Linked DNA regions of Homo sapiens. The protein of the gene in region 2 interacts with the protein of the main gene of each other region in a pairwise test. Each region holds a gene or a part of one and is shown on either strand. Other genes may lie near its edges.

What was found. Proteins that work in one complex are often made in the same cells at the same time.
Region 1: the proteins of PRKAR1A (region 2) and ZBED1 interact in binary tests that used the Homo sapiens proteins (3 or more experiments, as listed by UniProt).

The regions. Positions count from the first base shown.
Region 1 is NC_000023.11:2,489,878-2,499,203, reverse strand, and holds part of ZBED1 (E3 SUMO-protein ligase ZBED1), read left to right. Parts: intron 1-8,431; 5' UTR 8,432-8,484; coding exon 8,485-9,326.
Region 2 is NC_000017.11:68,515,344-68,522,699, forward strand, and holds part of PRKAR1A (cAMP-dependent protein kinase type I-alpha regulatory subunit), read left to right. Parts: intron 1-50; 5' UTR 51-56; coding exon 57-233; intron 234-7,356. UniProt on the Homo sapiens protein: Regulatory subunit of the cAMP-dependent protein kinases involved in cAMP signaling in cells.

The sequences.
Region 1 (9,326 bases), on a different chromosome or scaffold from region 2:
GGAGTCAGCCAGGCGAAGCGCTTGGGTGCCTTATTGTGAAATGACTTTTGACTTCCACTCTGCACCCACTGAAGGAATCCCAGGGGTCCCAGCGCCACCCTTTGAGAAGCGTGCCTGGAGTGGATGTTTTAAAATGAGCCTCTCTCTCCCGCCTCTAGCCAGAGAAAAAGAGCTTTGAGTTTTCTGTGAGCTAAGCTTTTCTTTTTCTGCCAAACTGGCCTTCAGTATTTTTTTTTAAACCCACTTAGCATAATTACAAATGCATAGAAGAAGGAGAGTAAAGGGAACTGTAGTCAGGCTTTCGGAGGGCAGGAGAGCATGTTTGTTTGAAGTAAGTAATCAGTTGCAAGGTGAACGGTTTACAGCTGCTGAACAATTGTGTGGAGTCTCGCAGAAGATTATGTTTATCCGGGCAGTTTTGCTTACAGAAAGGTCCCCTTAAACCTCCTTAAGGGCCTGTGTGGGCCCTGGCAGAAGAGGCCGGGGTTCCTGCAGCAGCTCACCAAAATGCTGGCCTTTGAAAAACTTGCTCTTTGTGCATTAGAAAAAGGGCTGGAATCTTTTTTTTTTTTTTTTTTCCCATTTACTGATTAAACAACAACAGAAGGTTGTTAAAGAGGACGAGCTTCTGGTGAAGTCACGTGTCTGCCAAGGGAATCTGTACCCGGGTGTGTATCGAAACAGAATGGCCTTCTCTAAAGATTAACTTAAGTGGCTTGCCCTCATCGAGCCCCTTCCTATGTATGGATTAAAAATAATTTTCGATACCAGTGGAGGAATGCTGTTGTCCTTGGTCTGCTGGTGGCCAGCTTCCTAAACGGCATTTTTTATTTGCTTCTCTCTGGTAGGCCTTCGCTGTTGGTGAGGAAACATTGAACTTTGTCCAGGGCATTTGAGCTAAGCTGTTTGAATAACCAAGAGGGCCAATTTCCCCACTGCAGATTGGAAGCAAGGGCAGTTTTTTCTTAGAACTTCCAAATGGAGCGTGTTCTTCTTAGGTATCGTACAAAGGAAATGCCTGGGTTACACCTTCCACATGAGTTGACTTACATGGTATGAGAAGGAAGAAATTGTGGCTGGAATCCACTCCTAAATGGTGTCTTCTTACAGTTCATCATGGAAAAACAAGATAATTACAAATTAATCATAGATGTTGGTCATGCCTTTACAGAGGGGGTTTAGAAGCAAATTGAGAATTCCCATAAGAGGGTCTGTCTCTGTGTTCTTAAGACTATATCCATGCGGCCCATTCAGTAAGTTGTATCTGTTGGTTGGATTTTAAAATAGATGATTTAATCAGTGCATTTAATATCCTAATATGGCATCAAAACTTGAACATTGATATGGCCTGAAATCTGTTGAAAATGATCATATTGAGTAAAGAAAGTCTCTACCCACCGGTATTAATAACAGGGTGATCTGTTTAGAAATTACATTTTCTCTGATACATCAATGAGTTTTGCAAAGGAGAGAAAATTGATGGTACCTGTAGTCAAGTCCAGTTCCAATACTGCCACAGAATTTTTCTTAAAAGTTCTATTGTAAATAATAGGCCACAGAATATTCCTTCACTTTCTGGGATGCAAAATGGATTCGTAAATGCTGTACCACAGGAGTGAGTATTTACAAAAAATATGCCAACTGGCCCACTTACAAAGCTATTTATAGAAGTCCTACTTTTCAAACTATTTTTTTTTTAACCTGTAAAGGGAAAGTTAATTCTTGTTGGTTTTATGAGTAGTGAACAGTGGCTATTAGAAATCAGGTAGAAGTAAAAACAGCAGTTTTCCAACTTCTTCTTCTTTTTCTTGAGACCAAGTTTCGCTTTTGTTTCCCAGGCTGGAGTGCAATGGCGTGATCTCAGCTCACCACAACCTCTGCCTCCCGGGTTCAAGCGATTCTCCTGCCTCAGCCTCCCGAGTAGCTGGGATTACAGGCATGTGCCACCATGCCTGGCTCATTTTGTATTTTTAGTGAGATGGGGTTTCTCCATGTTGGTCAGGCTGGTCTCAAACTCCTGACCTCAGGTGATAGTCCACCTTGGCATCCCAAATTGCTGGGATTACAGGGGTGAGCCCCTGCCCCCGGCCTCCAATTCCTTGATCATAGAATCTCTTTCAAAAAAAATGAGGACCCCAGACAGTTTTTGTTTTTGTGGATTATAACAGTCAATAAGTCATCCTGTTAGACATTAAAACAGAAATTTAAAACATATTTAACAATCTATTTAAAAGTAATGGTAACAGGCCAATTACATGTTACATACAAAAATGTATGTAATATATTTATTGTTTTTATATTTTATTTTTATTAAATATATATATTTTTAGAATAATTTATACTTTTCTATAAATATAAAATACAAATAAGTTATATTTATATAATTTAGATGTAAATAAAAACAATTGATATTTTTATATAAATATATAAATGTGTACACTTATGGGGCACAGTGTGATGCTTTGCTGTATGTTTGCATTGTGGAATAATTAAACTAATATCTATCACCCGCTATTTTTCCTTTGCGGTGGGAACATTTAAAATCTCTTTTAGCTATTTTTGTTTTTTATTTCCATAGGTTATTGGGGAACAGGTGGTGTTTGATTCCATGAGTAAGTTTTTTAGTGGTGATTTGTGAGATTCTGGTGCACCCATCACCCAAGCAGTATACACTGCACGCAAGACATTTAAAATCTCTATTGGCGGGCCGGGTGCGGTGGCTCATGCCTATAATCCCAGCACTTTGGGAGGCTGAGGCGGGTGGATTGCCTGAGCTCAGGAGTTTGAGACCAGTCTGGGCAATACAGTGGAACCCCATCTCTACTAAAATACAAAAAATTAGCTGGGTGTGGCAGTGTGCGCCTGTAGTCCCAGCTACTTGGGAGGCTGAGGCAGGAGAATGGTGTGAACCTGGGAGGTGGAGGTTGCAGTCAGCCAAGATTGCGCCACTGCACTCAAGCCTGGGCAACAGGGCGAGACTCCGTCTCAAAAAAACCAAAAAAACAAAAAAACAAAAACAAAAATAAAAACCTCTTTTAGCTATTTTGAAATATGTAATACACTATTAACTATCGCCACCACGCTGTGCAGTAGGTCACTGAAACGGATTCCTCCTGTCGAACAGAAACTTGGTACCCTTTGGCCATGTGCTGTATGTTTTTTAAAAGAAAAATGATTGTCATTTCCAAAATAACAAAAACCTAGGGAGAAGAGTGGCTGAGTTTTAGGGTTTTGTCAGTCTCATCCATAAAGGGACGGATGGCGGCTGGCTCCTTCCTCTGCTTCTTCACACTGGTCTCTTGCGACGTGTCGTTCTGGTAAGAGTCATGTGAGGCACATCCACTGGCCTCTCATGGATGTGCAATTGGAAACGTGAAATCGCCGGCCCCCTGAGAGCGTTTTGGGGAGTGTCCCCCCCAAACCCCCCTCCCCCCGCACTGGGGATGCTGCACCAGTCTTGAAGAATGAGGCAGTGAGAGGCTGGTTTACAGCAACCTTTATTCGTGGCCTTGTGTGCTCGGAAGCGCTGCAAGGGAGGAGGAAGGAGGAAGGAGGGTACTCACTGCAGAAGGTCAGCTCTGCTGTGGCTGTTACGTGGGTTCAGGTGGAACCCACCTACTGTGTGGACGGTTCTTTACCTGGGAATCCCATGGAATTCTGACAGCAGGAGACGTGGGAGGGAGCTTCTTGTTTCTCCTTCCAGGAGTCACTTGGTTAGGGGTTTGGGAATTTTGGCTCTTAGTACAAAACTTCACTCCAGGTACTAGACCTGTTTCAGCCAAATGATGATCATCATAATAGAATAGAAACCTTTGTTCACCTAAATAATAACAATAATATTAATAATAATAGAATATAAACCTTTGTTCATGGTACTGGGGCGTCTTTCAGCCCAATAATAATAACAACAATAGGAATAATGATAATAATGATAAAATATAAACCTTTGCTTCACGTCCTGGAACGTCTTTCAGCCAAATAATAATAATAATATTAATGATAATAGAATATAAACCTTTGTTCAGGGTACTGTGACTTCTTTCAGCCCAGTAATAATAATAATAATAGTAATAATGATAATAATGATAGAATATAAACCTTTGCTTCATCTCCTGGAACGTCTTTCAGCCAAATAATAACAATAATAATAATAATGACAATAGAATATAAACCTTTGTTCAGGGTACTGTGACCTCTTTCAGCCCAGTAATAATAATAACAGTAGTAATAATGATAATAATGATAGAATATAAACCTTTGCTCCAGGTCCTGGGAGCTCTTTCAGCCAAATAAGAATAATAATAGAATATAAACCTTTGTTCACAGTACCAGGACCTCTTTCAGACCAACAATAATGACAGTAATAATAATTATAATGATAATAGAATATAAACTTTTCTTCTAGGTACTGGGACCTCTTTCAACCAAATAATAATAGTGGAATATAAAACTTGGCTCTAGGTACCAGAACCTTTTTTCAGCCAAATAGTAATAATAAGAATAGTATTAATAGAAAACAGACCTTTGGTCCAGGTACTGGGACACCTGTGAGCCAAATAATAATAATAATGATAATAATAGAACATAAACCTTTGACTGAAGTGCCAGAACCTTTTTCAGCTAAATAATAATAATAAAATATAAACTTTTGTTCCAGGTACCCGGACTTCTTTCAGCCTAATAATAATCATAGAATATAAACCTTTACTACAGGTCCTGGCACCTTTCTCAGCCAAATAGTAATAAAATAGAATATAAACTTTTGTTCTGTTACTGGGACCTCTTTCAGCCTAATAACAAAAGTAATAATAATAGAATAAAAACCTTTGCTCCAGGTTCTAGAACCTCTTTCAGCCTAATAATAATAATAATGATAGAATGAAAATTTTTGTTCCAGGTGTCGAGACCTCTTCCAGCCTAATAATAATAATAATGTAATAATATAAGCCTTTGCTACAGGTACCAGGACCTGTTTCAGCCAAATAATAATAACAGCAATGATAATAGAATATAAACCTTGGCCCCAGGCACTGGGACTTCTTTCAGTCAAACAATCACAATAATAATAATAATAATAGAATATGGATGTTTGCTCCAGCTTTCAGGACCTCTTTCAGACAGATAATAATAACCGAGTACAAACTTTTCTTCCAGGTATCGGGACCTCTTCCAGCCTAAAAACAATAGTAATAATAGCATATATATCTTTTTTTTTGTTTTCTTCTTTCTTTGAGACGGAGTTTTGCGCTTGTTGCCCAGGCTACAGTGCAATGGCGCCATCTCGGCTCACTGCAACCTCTGCTTCCCGGGTTCAAACGATTCTCGTGCCTCAGCCTCCCGAGTAGCTGGGACTACAGGCATGTGCCACTACCACGCCCGGCTAATTTTGTATTTTTAGTAGAGGAGGGGTTTCACCATGTTGTCCAGGGTGGTCTCAAACTCCTGACCTCAGATGATCCACCCACCTTGGCCTCCCAAAGTGCTGAGAGTACAGGCGTGAGCCGCTGTGCCTGGTGCCAGCATAAAAATCTTTGCTACAGGTACTGAGACCTTTTTCAGCCTAATAATAATAACAACCGTAACAATAATAATTAGAATATAAACCTTTGTTACTGGTACTGGGACCTCTTCCAGCCTAATCTTCATAATAATAAAAATAATAATAATAATGGAATTGAAACCTTTCCTTCAGGTTCCAGAACCGCTTTCAGCCACATAATAATAATAATAATGATAATAATAATAATAAATAGAATTTAAACTTTTGTTTGAGGACTGGGACCTCTTTCAGCCCAATAGCACAAATAATAATAATGGAATGTAAACCTTTTCCTCCCAATTACCAAAACCTGTTTCAGCCAAATAATAATATGATGATGATGATGATGGAGGATCTGATACAGCTGTGTCCTGTCACTCAGGTCGGACTTAGGAGGCCTCTTGAGATTCTTTTCCCCCTCCGTTGACTGTGTAATCCAGGGGCCCCACCCTAACTCGGCTGCAGAAGATGCAGTTTGGGGGTTCCTCGTTTTGTGGAAGTCCCGGTCATGTTATTCATTCTCTCAGCACCTTAGAACAAACCAGGGTGCTGGCATTGGCCACAGGACCCCCCTCCTTGCACCCCAGTCTTGGGAAGTGGCACTGCTGGGCTCTGGCAATGCCCAGCTCACCTGGCACGTGGCGGCGTCTCCCTAAAAAGCACTGGGCGGGCACCGTTGACGGAAAGCCAGCAACGCAGGCCGCGACTGCCCGTGAAGACGGGGGGCCTTTCTAAGACCTCCACTCATTATTTCGGGCAAAATTAACCTTCAGAATACCTTGCTTTAATAAAGTACCAGAAACCGGAGGGCTTAAAACCATAGCTTATTCTCTCCCAGTTCTGGAGGCCAGAAGTCTGTAATCAAAGTGTCTCAGGGCTGCGCTCCCTCCGGAGGCTTACGCGGAGGGTGCTTCCTGCCTCTCCCAGCTCCTGGGGGCTCCTGGCGTCCCTGGGCTTCAGGCCAGCCACATCATCACTCTAGTCTCTGCCTCTGTCTCCATGTGGCCTTCTCTGTGTCTGTGTCTCCTCTTCTGTCTTTTATAAGGACATCTGTCACTGCATTTAGGGCTCACTCAAATCCCGGATGATCTCATCTCCAGATCCTTAACTCATGAGATCTACAAAATTTCTAATAACCAAGTAAGATCTCATTCCACATCCTGGGCTTTAGGCTGTGGACAGATCTTTCTGCGGGCCACTGTTCAATCCACCATGATTTTATCCAGTTCATTGTGGAGGCTCTAGAGGAGGATCCTTCCTGCCTCTCCCAGCTCCTGGGGGCTCCAGGCGTTCTGGGTTTGTGGCCGCATCACTCCAGTCTCGGCCTCTGTCTCCATGTGGTCTTCTCCTGTGTGTCCGTGTCTCCTCATCTGTCTTCTATTAAGGACACTGGTCACTGCATTTAGGACCACCTCAATTGAGAATAATCTCATCTAAAGATCCTTACCTTCATTATTAATACATCTGCAAAGACCCTTTTTCCAAACAAGGTCCCATACACAAGTACCAGGTGGATACAGATTTTCTTTGGTAGGGGAGGACGCTTTTCAACCCACTATAGTCATCATTGAAATATGCCTCCTTGCACTGACTGTATCCCAACACTCTGAACGTGCCTGGGTGGTGCATTTTGATATTTACCCTCCTGAGCACTGTACTGGACACTTGGAGACACAATTACACCTTTTAACAAAGCCCAGCTGTCATTTTGGGCAACCCAGTCACAGAGGTGGCCTCCTGAGTGGCAGCTGGAAGGGCCTGTATGTGTGAGCATTCAACCTCAACAGGAACCCTGGGGACTGGCTTCTGGGTCATCTAAGCCTCCACACCGACTGCCTGATGTTTGCACAGGTGTGTGATATTTGCCCAGTTGGGCCTTTCTGCCCACAGGTGTGACTGGACACAATGGGCATTTTGAGAAGTTCCAGGGATTGAGAAATCCATGCTTCTTCAGACGTGCTTACAGATCACGGATGCACCTGTGACGTTCCACATGGCTTCATTTTAAACCATAAAGTTTGAGAAGAGTGTGCAGTGCCTCTTAGCCATAGGAAAGCTGGCTTTAGTCAGATGGAGGTCCTGTTTGGCTTCTTTAATGCAGTGAATGAAGCTCAGGTGGCATTCAGAGAGTCCTGCTGTGATGGTTGGCAGTGGGGGGTCTGCCTGGCCACTTGTGGATTCTTCTATGTAGGCTTCATCCCCAGAAAAGATCTACGCAGCTTTCCCACGTGGCAGGTGCTTGGGAAACTCTTAGGACAGGAACAACAAGCCCCTGCGATGACAGAGGCATTGTCAGGCTGGGCGCGGTGACTCACGCCTGTCATCCCAGCACTTTGGGAGGCCAAGGCGGGTGGATCACCTGAAGTCAGGAGTTCGAGACCAGCCTGACCAACATGGTGAAACCCTGTCTCTACTAAAAATACAAAAATTAGCCAGGCGTGATGGCAGGTGCCTGTGATCCCAGCTACTGAGGAAGCTGAGGCAGGAAGATCGCTTGAACCCGGGAGGCGGAGGTTGCAGTGAGCTGAGATCACGCCATTGCACTGCAGCCTGGGTGACAGAGCGAAACTCTGTCTCAAAAAAAAAAAAAAAAAAAAACTAAAGGCACTTGTCAGGTACAGCCCTGCAAAAATGCCGTGCTCACTCGCAAACCTGTATGTTGACACGTGCGGCATCGCTGCAGTCGGATTAACGTGGAAGAAAGAGCGTATTCCTGCGCTAGGTTCCCTCCTCCACTCTGCAAAAGTGACCCGCAAGGAAGGTCCAGCCGTCCGGCCCCAGTGCCCTTTGGTTGAAAGCGGAGCTGCCCCGGCACCCTGTCTGTCTCCCCGGCAGGGCTCCCGTGCGTGCCTGGGTCCCTTCTCATGCTGTGTTTGTCTTGGCCCTTCTCAGCAGGTCCCCACGCATGAGCAGCCGTCCAGCAGGCAGGCTCCGGTGGAGAAGCAATGGAGAATAAAAGCCTGGAGAGCTCCCAGACAGACCTGAAGCTGGTGGCCCACCCCCGCGCCAAGAGCAAGGTGTGGAAGTATTTCGGCTTCGACACCAACGCCGAGGGATGCATCCTGCAGTGGAAGAAAATCTACTGCCGCATCTGCATGGCCCAGATCGCCTACTCCGGAAACACCTCCAACCTGTCCTACCACCTGGAGAAGAACCACCCCGAGGAATTCTGCGAGTTCGTCAAGAGCAACACGGAGCAGATGCGTGAAGCCTTCGCCACCGCCTTCTCCAAGCTGAAGCCCGAGTCGTCCCAGCAGCCCGGGCAGGACGCGCTGGCCGTCAAGGCCGGCCACGGCTACGACAGCAAGAAGCAGCAGGAGCTGACGGCCGCCGTGCTGGGCCTCATCTGCGAGGGGCTGTACCCAGCCTCCATCGTGGACGAGCCCACCTTCAAGGTGCTGCTGAAGACGGCCGACCCCCGGTATGAGCTGCCCAGCCGGAAGTACATCTCTACCAAGGCCATCCCTGAGAAGTACGGGGCCGTCCGGGAGGTGATCCTGAAGGAGCTGGCCGAGGCCACCTGGTGTGGCATCTCCACCGACATGTGGAGGAGTGAGAATCAGAACCGCGCCTACGTCACGCTGGCCGCCCACTTCCTGGGCCTGGGCGCCCCCAACTGCCTGTCCATGGGCTCCCGCTGCCTGAAGACCTTCGAGGTGCCCGAAGAGAACACGGCGGAGACCATCACGCGAGTGCTCTATGAGGTCTTCATCGAGTGGGGCATCAGCGCCAAGGTCTTCGGGGCCACCACCAACTATGGCAAGGACATCGTGAAGGCGTGCTCCCT
Region 2 (7,356 bases):
ACATTTTGCTTTATAGTTTATACAAGCATGTGTGTGTTTTTTTCTCGCAGAGAACCATGGAGTCTGGCAGTACCGCCGCCAGTGAGGAGGCACGCAGCCTTCGAGAATGTGAGCTCTACGTCCAGAAGCATAACATTCAAGCGCTGCTCAAAGATTCTATTGTGCAGTTGTGCACTGCTCGACCTGAGAGACCCATGGCATTCCTCAGGGAATACTTTGAGAGGTTGGAGAAGGTAAAAATAAATGTGGGGAGATGATGAGGTGATTGTGACAGTTGTTACATTTAATAACTGGAATGTTACTAATTTGTATTTTTTGGAAGAAAAGGAATCTGACTAAATAAAAAGTCTAAAACAATTTCAAATAAGAAATACAGTTAAGGCATTTGTAGTAATTTAAAAATTCTTAATTAGTAGAATTTATCAGAAAAATGAACCTGTATGCTAACTGTACTTGGCTAATAAAGGGTTTCCAAACAATTCTTTGTAACTTTTTAAATTAGTGCGTAGAACTATAACAGATAAAACTGATCAGAACTAGTATAGCAGTTCTATGAATAAGAAATTCTATAGTTCTTAAAGGCAGTTAATGCTCCTCCCGTTTTGAACAAAGCAAGTAAGCGTAGTAAATCTTATCCCACTTTTAAAACTAGTGTAATGAAACATGAATCTAGCTTGTGACTGATATATCAGAAATTTTCAATTAGATTCGGTCTATTTTAGTATAGAGTATATCTGATAAATTACTGTAGAGATATTGATATTGATGTTCCTCAAAAATTTTACTCCATTTTATTGGTCAGGACTTGTTGCGCCTTGAAAAAAATTAATCCAATTTTTATTCTTTTTTGCTCTTCCTCCTTGCTTGTATGTCATTGTGACCTACGTATATGGCATATGTTTTTCTAAGCAAAGTGATAATTTTACATCAGGGATAATTGAAGCAAATGAATGCTTCAATTCATCTCCCTCAAGAAACGATGAATGAAAAAGTCTGGGTTACCAAATATTTTGAATAGTTTATGTGATTCGCTTCTGTAAATCAGTGAGAGAAACTTACTGATTTTCTTGTGCATGTGGAAGTTATGAGGTGGTTCATAATGATTATGAATTAATTGAAATGAATCATATACCAAAAGAAATGATTCATATACCAAAAGAAATGAATCATTTCTTTTGGTATATGATTATCTAATTGTATAATAGAAATAATTTGCTTTATTTTCCATTGGTTTTTATAGTTTCTTATAATCAGTATAGTTTATTAGTAAAAGAATCTGTACTAAGCTTTAAAAAGTATTTGGGTAGCTCATTGATCAGGTATTTTCTATTTTCTTTAAAAACTGATTGTTAAAATTTGTATTTAGTACCATGATCAGAATAATTAAAAAAAAAACAAAAACAACTAGTCACTGTGAATGTTGCTTTGCTGTCTTGGAATTATAGTAGATATTCTGGCTTTCTCTTATTTATGCAATTTCCAAATCATGGAAGTATTGTAGAGCCAGGTCATAGATGTAGCTTGTTTTGAAGTCAAGTGCATTCCTGGAGATCCGGTTTTGAAATGGGTCACTGTAAGGTGATCCCTCTTCTTTGGACATCAATAGAAACCATCAAATGAGAGGATTAAGTTGGTGAGACATTAAGTGTGTATCTTTTTATAGGGAGTGTTGAATGTGTGATGCTAGTTTCAAAGCTTGTAGTTGCCACAGTACTGTTTAAAGACTAACAAAGGTGGAAAGCAATAAATAATTATTAAAATGGTTTCTTTGCAGATGGAATTTTTAGATTTAATGTGTTTCAGCTTCTTTAACTTTTAATAATTAAAGTCACAGTTCAACATGGTTTTTGCTGTAATTCAAGGGTCTTTGTTCACATGTATACATTCCTTCCAGGGTTGAATATAGATACCTGGACCTTTAAGTAATTAGATTTTCAACTTGTTAGTGGGTCATAGTTCTGTGTATTAGGTGTTAATTTGTATGTTAGTCTATTAGTCCGTTGTCATGCTGCTAATAAAGACATACCGAGGCTGGGTAATTCATAAAGGAAAGAGGTTTAATTGACTCACAATTCAGCATGGCTGGGGAGGCCTCAGGAAACTTACAATCATGGCAGAAGGAGAAGCAAACCCATCCTCTTCACATGGCAGCAGCAAGGAGAAGTACAGAGCAAAATGGGAAAAGTCCCTTATGAAACCGTCAGCTATCGTGAGGACTCACTCACTATCATGATAACAGCATGAGGGTAACCCCCCTGCCATGATTAAGTTACCTCCCACCAGGTCCCTCTCAGGGCACATAGGGATTATGGGAACTGCAATTCAAGATGAGATTTGGGTGTGGACACAGCCAAACCATATCATTCCACCTCTGGCCCCTCCCAGATCTCATGTTTTCACATTTTGAAACACAGTCATGCCTTTCCAACAGTCCCTCAGAGTCTTAACTCATTCCAGCATTAACTCAAAAGTTCAAGTCCAAAGTCTCATCTGAGGCAAGGCAAGTCCCTTCCACCTATGAGCCTGTAAAATCAGAAGCAAGTTAGTTACTTCCTGGGGTCATTGGGTAGATAACACCCATTCCAAATGGGAGAACTTGGTCAAAACAAGGGGAGTATAGACCCCGTGCAAATCCGAAATCCAACGAGGCAGTAATTAAATCTTAAAGTTGCAAAAGGATCTCCTTTGACTCCATGTCTCACATTCAGGGCACACTGATGCAAGAGGTGGGCTCCCGTGGCCTTGGGCAGCTCCGCCCCTGTGGCTTTGCAGGGTACAGCCCCCCTCCTGGCTGCTTCCATGGGCAGGCATTGAGAGTCTGTTGCTTTTCCAGGTGCATGGTGCAATCTGTTGGTGGATCTACCATTCTGGAGTCTGGAGGATAGTGGCCCTCTTCTCGTAGTTCCATTAGGCAGTGCTGCAGTGGGGACTCGGTGTGGGGGCTCCAAACGACCCCACATTTCCCTTCCGCACTGCCCTAGCAGAGGTTCTCCAGGAGGGCCACGCCCCTGCAGCAAACTTCTGTCTGGGCATCCAGGCATTTCTGTACATCTTCTGAAATCTAGGGGGAGGTTCCCAAACCTCAGTTCTTGACTTCTGTGCACCCACAGGCCCAGCACCACTTGTAAGCCACCAGGGCTTGGGGCTTGCACTCTCTGAAGTAATGGCCAGAGCTGTACCTTTTAGCCAAGACTGGAGCTGAAGCAGCTGGAACGCAGGGTACCATGTCCTGAGGCTGCATAGTACAGGAGCCCCAGGGCATGGCCTAGGAAACCATTTTCCCCTCCTAGGCCTCTGGGCCTATGATGGGAGGGGCTGTCCTGAAGGTCTGTGACATGCCCTGGAGACATTTTCCCCATTGTCTTGGTGATTAACATTTGGCTCCTTGTTACTTATGTGAATTTCTGCGGCAGGCTTGAATTTCTCCCCAGAAAATGGGATTTTCTTTTCTATTGCTTTGTCAGGCTGCAAATTTTTCAAGCTCTGCTTCCTCTTGAATGCTTTCCTGCTTAGAAATTTCTTCCACCGGATACCCTAAATCATTTCTCTCAAGTTCAAAGTTCCACAGATTTCTAGGGCAGGGCCAAAATACTGCCAGTCTCTTTGCATAGCGAGAGTCACCTTTACTCCAGTTCTCAAGTTCCTCATCTCCATCTGAGACCACCTTAGCCTGGACTTCATTGTCCATATTACTATCAGCATTTTGGTCAAAGCCGTACAAGAAATCTCTAGGAAGTTCCAAACTTTCCCACATTTTCCTGTCTTCTTCTGAGCCCTCCAGACTGTTCCACCCTCTTCCTGTTACCCAGTTCCAAAGTTGCTTCTGCATTTTTGGGTATCCTTGTAACAGCACCCCACGCTCTGTGTACCATTTTACTGTATTAGTCTGTTCTCATGCTGCTAATAAAAGACATACCCAAGACTGGGTAATTTATAAAGGAAAGTGGTTTGACTCACAGTTCCTCATGGCTGGGCAGGCCTCGGGAAGCTACAATCATGGCAGAAGGGGAAGCAAACACATTCTTCTTCACATGGCAGCAGCAAGGAGAAGGGTCAAGCAAAAGGGGGAAAAGCCCCTCAAAACTGTCAGATGTCATGAGAGCTCACTATCACCAGAACAGCATGGAGGTAACCACCCCTGTGATTAAATTACCTCCCACCAGGTCCCTCCCACAATATGTGGGGATTATGGGAACTATAATTCAAGATGAGATTTGGGTGGGGACACAGCCAAACCATATCAGTCTGAAAATACAGTCATATTCTCATCACCTTCTTCGTCATTACTGGGGGGTTGTGTTTCTGTTACCTTCAACTACTCCATAAGAAATGTACCAAAAACTCTTGACAGTTGGTCTTTTGAAAGCTTCTGCATTTTAATTCAGTCATCTGGAATTTGAGTCTTCTTTTACTCTTGTATTTATTAGACCCTTAGGTAAGAGGAATTAAAATAACAGTGACCTTGTGTCTGCTGTGTCAGGTACTGTGTGAAGCACTTTATATACATAAATACTCGTTATTTCAAATGTACGAGGTATGTGATTTTCAGCATTTTATAGACATAGCAGTAAAACTGAGAGAAATTAAGTAATGTGGCTGTGGTTATAGACTGTAGTCGTCAGCTTTTGCTGGAGCAACATACAACCCCCAAATTTCAGTGGTTACTACAACAGACCAGTCATGTGCAGTTCTTCTGGTATCAGCCTGTCTTATGTTCTTGACACCACATATCTTGTTCTGGGGCTGAGCAGAAGGAGCAGCCCTATATAGGGCATGCTGTTCTCAAAGCAGAGGGAGGGCAGAAGCTCAAGGTGGACAGAGCCAAACCACACAGGCAACCATGGTATGGCATGTCCACTTACATTCCATGGCCAGAGCAAGTCCTGTAGCCAAGCCTTAAGTCAGTGGGGTGGGAAGTATACTTTACCCACAGGGAAGAGTGACAGAAGCAGGGAGGGAACAAATAATCGGGAAAACATAGTAGTGGGGACAGAATTTGAACCTAAGAGTCAAGAAGATAGTGCAGAATTTAATGCAAAACCGAATGCAGAATTTGAACCTCAGAGTCAAGAACATAATTAACCACTGAGTAGACTGGGAGGTTTTTTCTAATTTTTAATTTTTTATTGATATATAACATTTGTATGTTTTTATGGAGTACATGTGATATTTTACAGGCATAGAATGTGTAATGATCACGTCAAGGTATTTAGGTTATTCATCACCTCACTTAAAGAGCTGAGGAGGAAGGAGACTGACAGAAGGATGACAACAGCAAGAGAAAGGATATAAAAATATATCATAGTATATACTAGAAAACTCATGATCTGAGTAATGGCTCTGAGTTGTCAGATTAGGTTATATTCAGATTGCTGTTTTTAAAAGACTCACTAGAATCCATGAGACACTGCTAAAATCAGAATGCTTTTGTTACTTCAAAATTAATCTTAAAAATTCAGTGAAGTAGAATGTAGTCCCAAGTGAAATGTTATTTGTGAAATTTTTCCTGAAATTTTTGTGAAATGTCAGTGACAAATTTGGGGGTGGGAGAATTTGTGTTTTCATTTATACTCTTAAACTGTGTGTGTGTTTTATTTTATTTTTATTATTATTTTTTTGAGACAGTCTTGCTCTGTCACCCAGGCTGGACTGCAGTGGTGCAATCTCGGCTCACTGCAACCTCTGCCTCCTGGGTTCAGGCGATTCTCCTGCCTCTGCCTCCTGAGTAGCTGGGGCTACAGGTGCCTGCCACCACACCTGGCTAATTTTTGTATTTTTAGTAGAGATGGGGTTTCACCATAATGGCCAGTCTGGTCTTGAACTCCTGACCTTGTGGTCTGCCCACCTTGGCCTCCCGAAGTGTTGGGATTACAGGTGTGAGCCACCATGCCTGGCCTATTTTTTGAGACAGGATCTCACTCTGTTGCCCAGGCCTGAGTGCAGTGGTGCGATCATGGCTCACTGCAGTCTCTACCTTCCAGGCTCAGGTGATCCTCCTGCCTCAGCTTCCCAAGTAGCTGGGACTACAGGTGTGTGCCACCACGCCCAACTAATTTTTATGTGTTTTTGTAGAGATGAGGTTTTACAATGTTGCCTAGGCGGGTCTCGAACTCCTGGACTCAAGTGATCTGCCACCTTCGGCCTCCCAAAGGGTTGTGATTATAGGCGTAAGCCACTGTACCCAGTCATGTATTCTTAAACTTTAAACTTGGGAGAGACTTGAGTTTTATACCTGTGTTAATATGAAATGAGAAAACCTTACTGGTTATTGGAACAACCAGAATTAACATGAAATGAGTTTTCTAAAAACCATATTTTAAAAAGTAGGTTACATATTCACATATTTCAAAGTTGTGCAGGTACAAAGGGGCATAATAATGAAAGGTCTCCCTCCCACGCCATTGCTTTTCTTGAATGCTGCCAATGTTCTGGAGATTAATATATGGGCACTTACAAATTTATATATAGAAAAGAAATAACGGGTCAAATGAATGAGAAAGTAGAAGATAACACATTTTTATTTTTTCCCTTTTACTTCAGGCACAACAACTAATTCTTTAGATCTGAGAGGAATTTGTTTTTAAGGCTCTAGATGTGAAAAAAGGAATGTTTAATAGTTTATCTTAGGTTTTATTTGAATTGGTCCAATAAGTAGTTTTTAAAAGCAAGTAAACTCTTTTTGTCTTTTAACTTCAAGTTTAAACCTTGATTACAAAGAGTGATCCTAGCTCTGCTGGGAGAAGTATTATAGATACGATCTCGTTTAAATTCGTGGTTACCATCACATCATTTCATTATTTGTTTTTATCTGGGATCAAACTGGAATGTGAATTCCACAGGCTCAGGACCCTCTCCTATTTGTTTTTAATTTCCTGTTGCCTAGCATAGGTCTTGGCCTGGCAGATCCAGAAAATGGCTTATTGAGTTAATGAAATAACTCAGTAATCTAGACATTCTTGGATCACTATGTTGGGCTTGAATTGTTTTTCCTGATAACATTTCTTTTGGCAGGAGGGTCTCTTGCTATCTGCAGTAGCATCCAAAAAAACCCAATTTTCAGGATTTTGTCTTGCAGTGTGTTACTGTTGTGTGCATCACAGATAATTGTTGTCAAGACATTAATGAATATCTGATTTGTTACTCACATGTTATGTGAGTACTAATGGCTTGTACTAATGACTTTTGCCCATTAATAAAGGATAGCATCTGTTATCATCTGAGGTACATTCTGTTGAGAGTGTTTCAAGTGTTACTCTCTTTTTTTCCCCTTTGGAATTGGTGTTTTCCTCTTAACTTACATTGTTAATGGAAGAAGAGATTGGAAGTGACTGAGATAGACTATCATTGGAACATGAG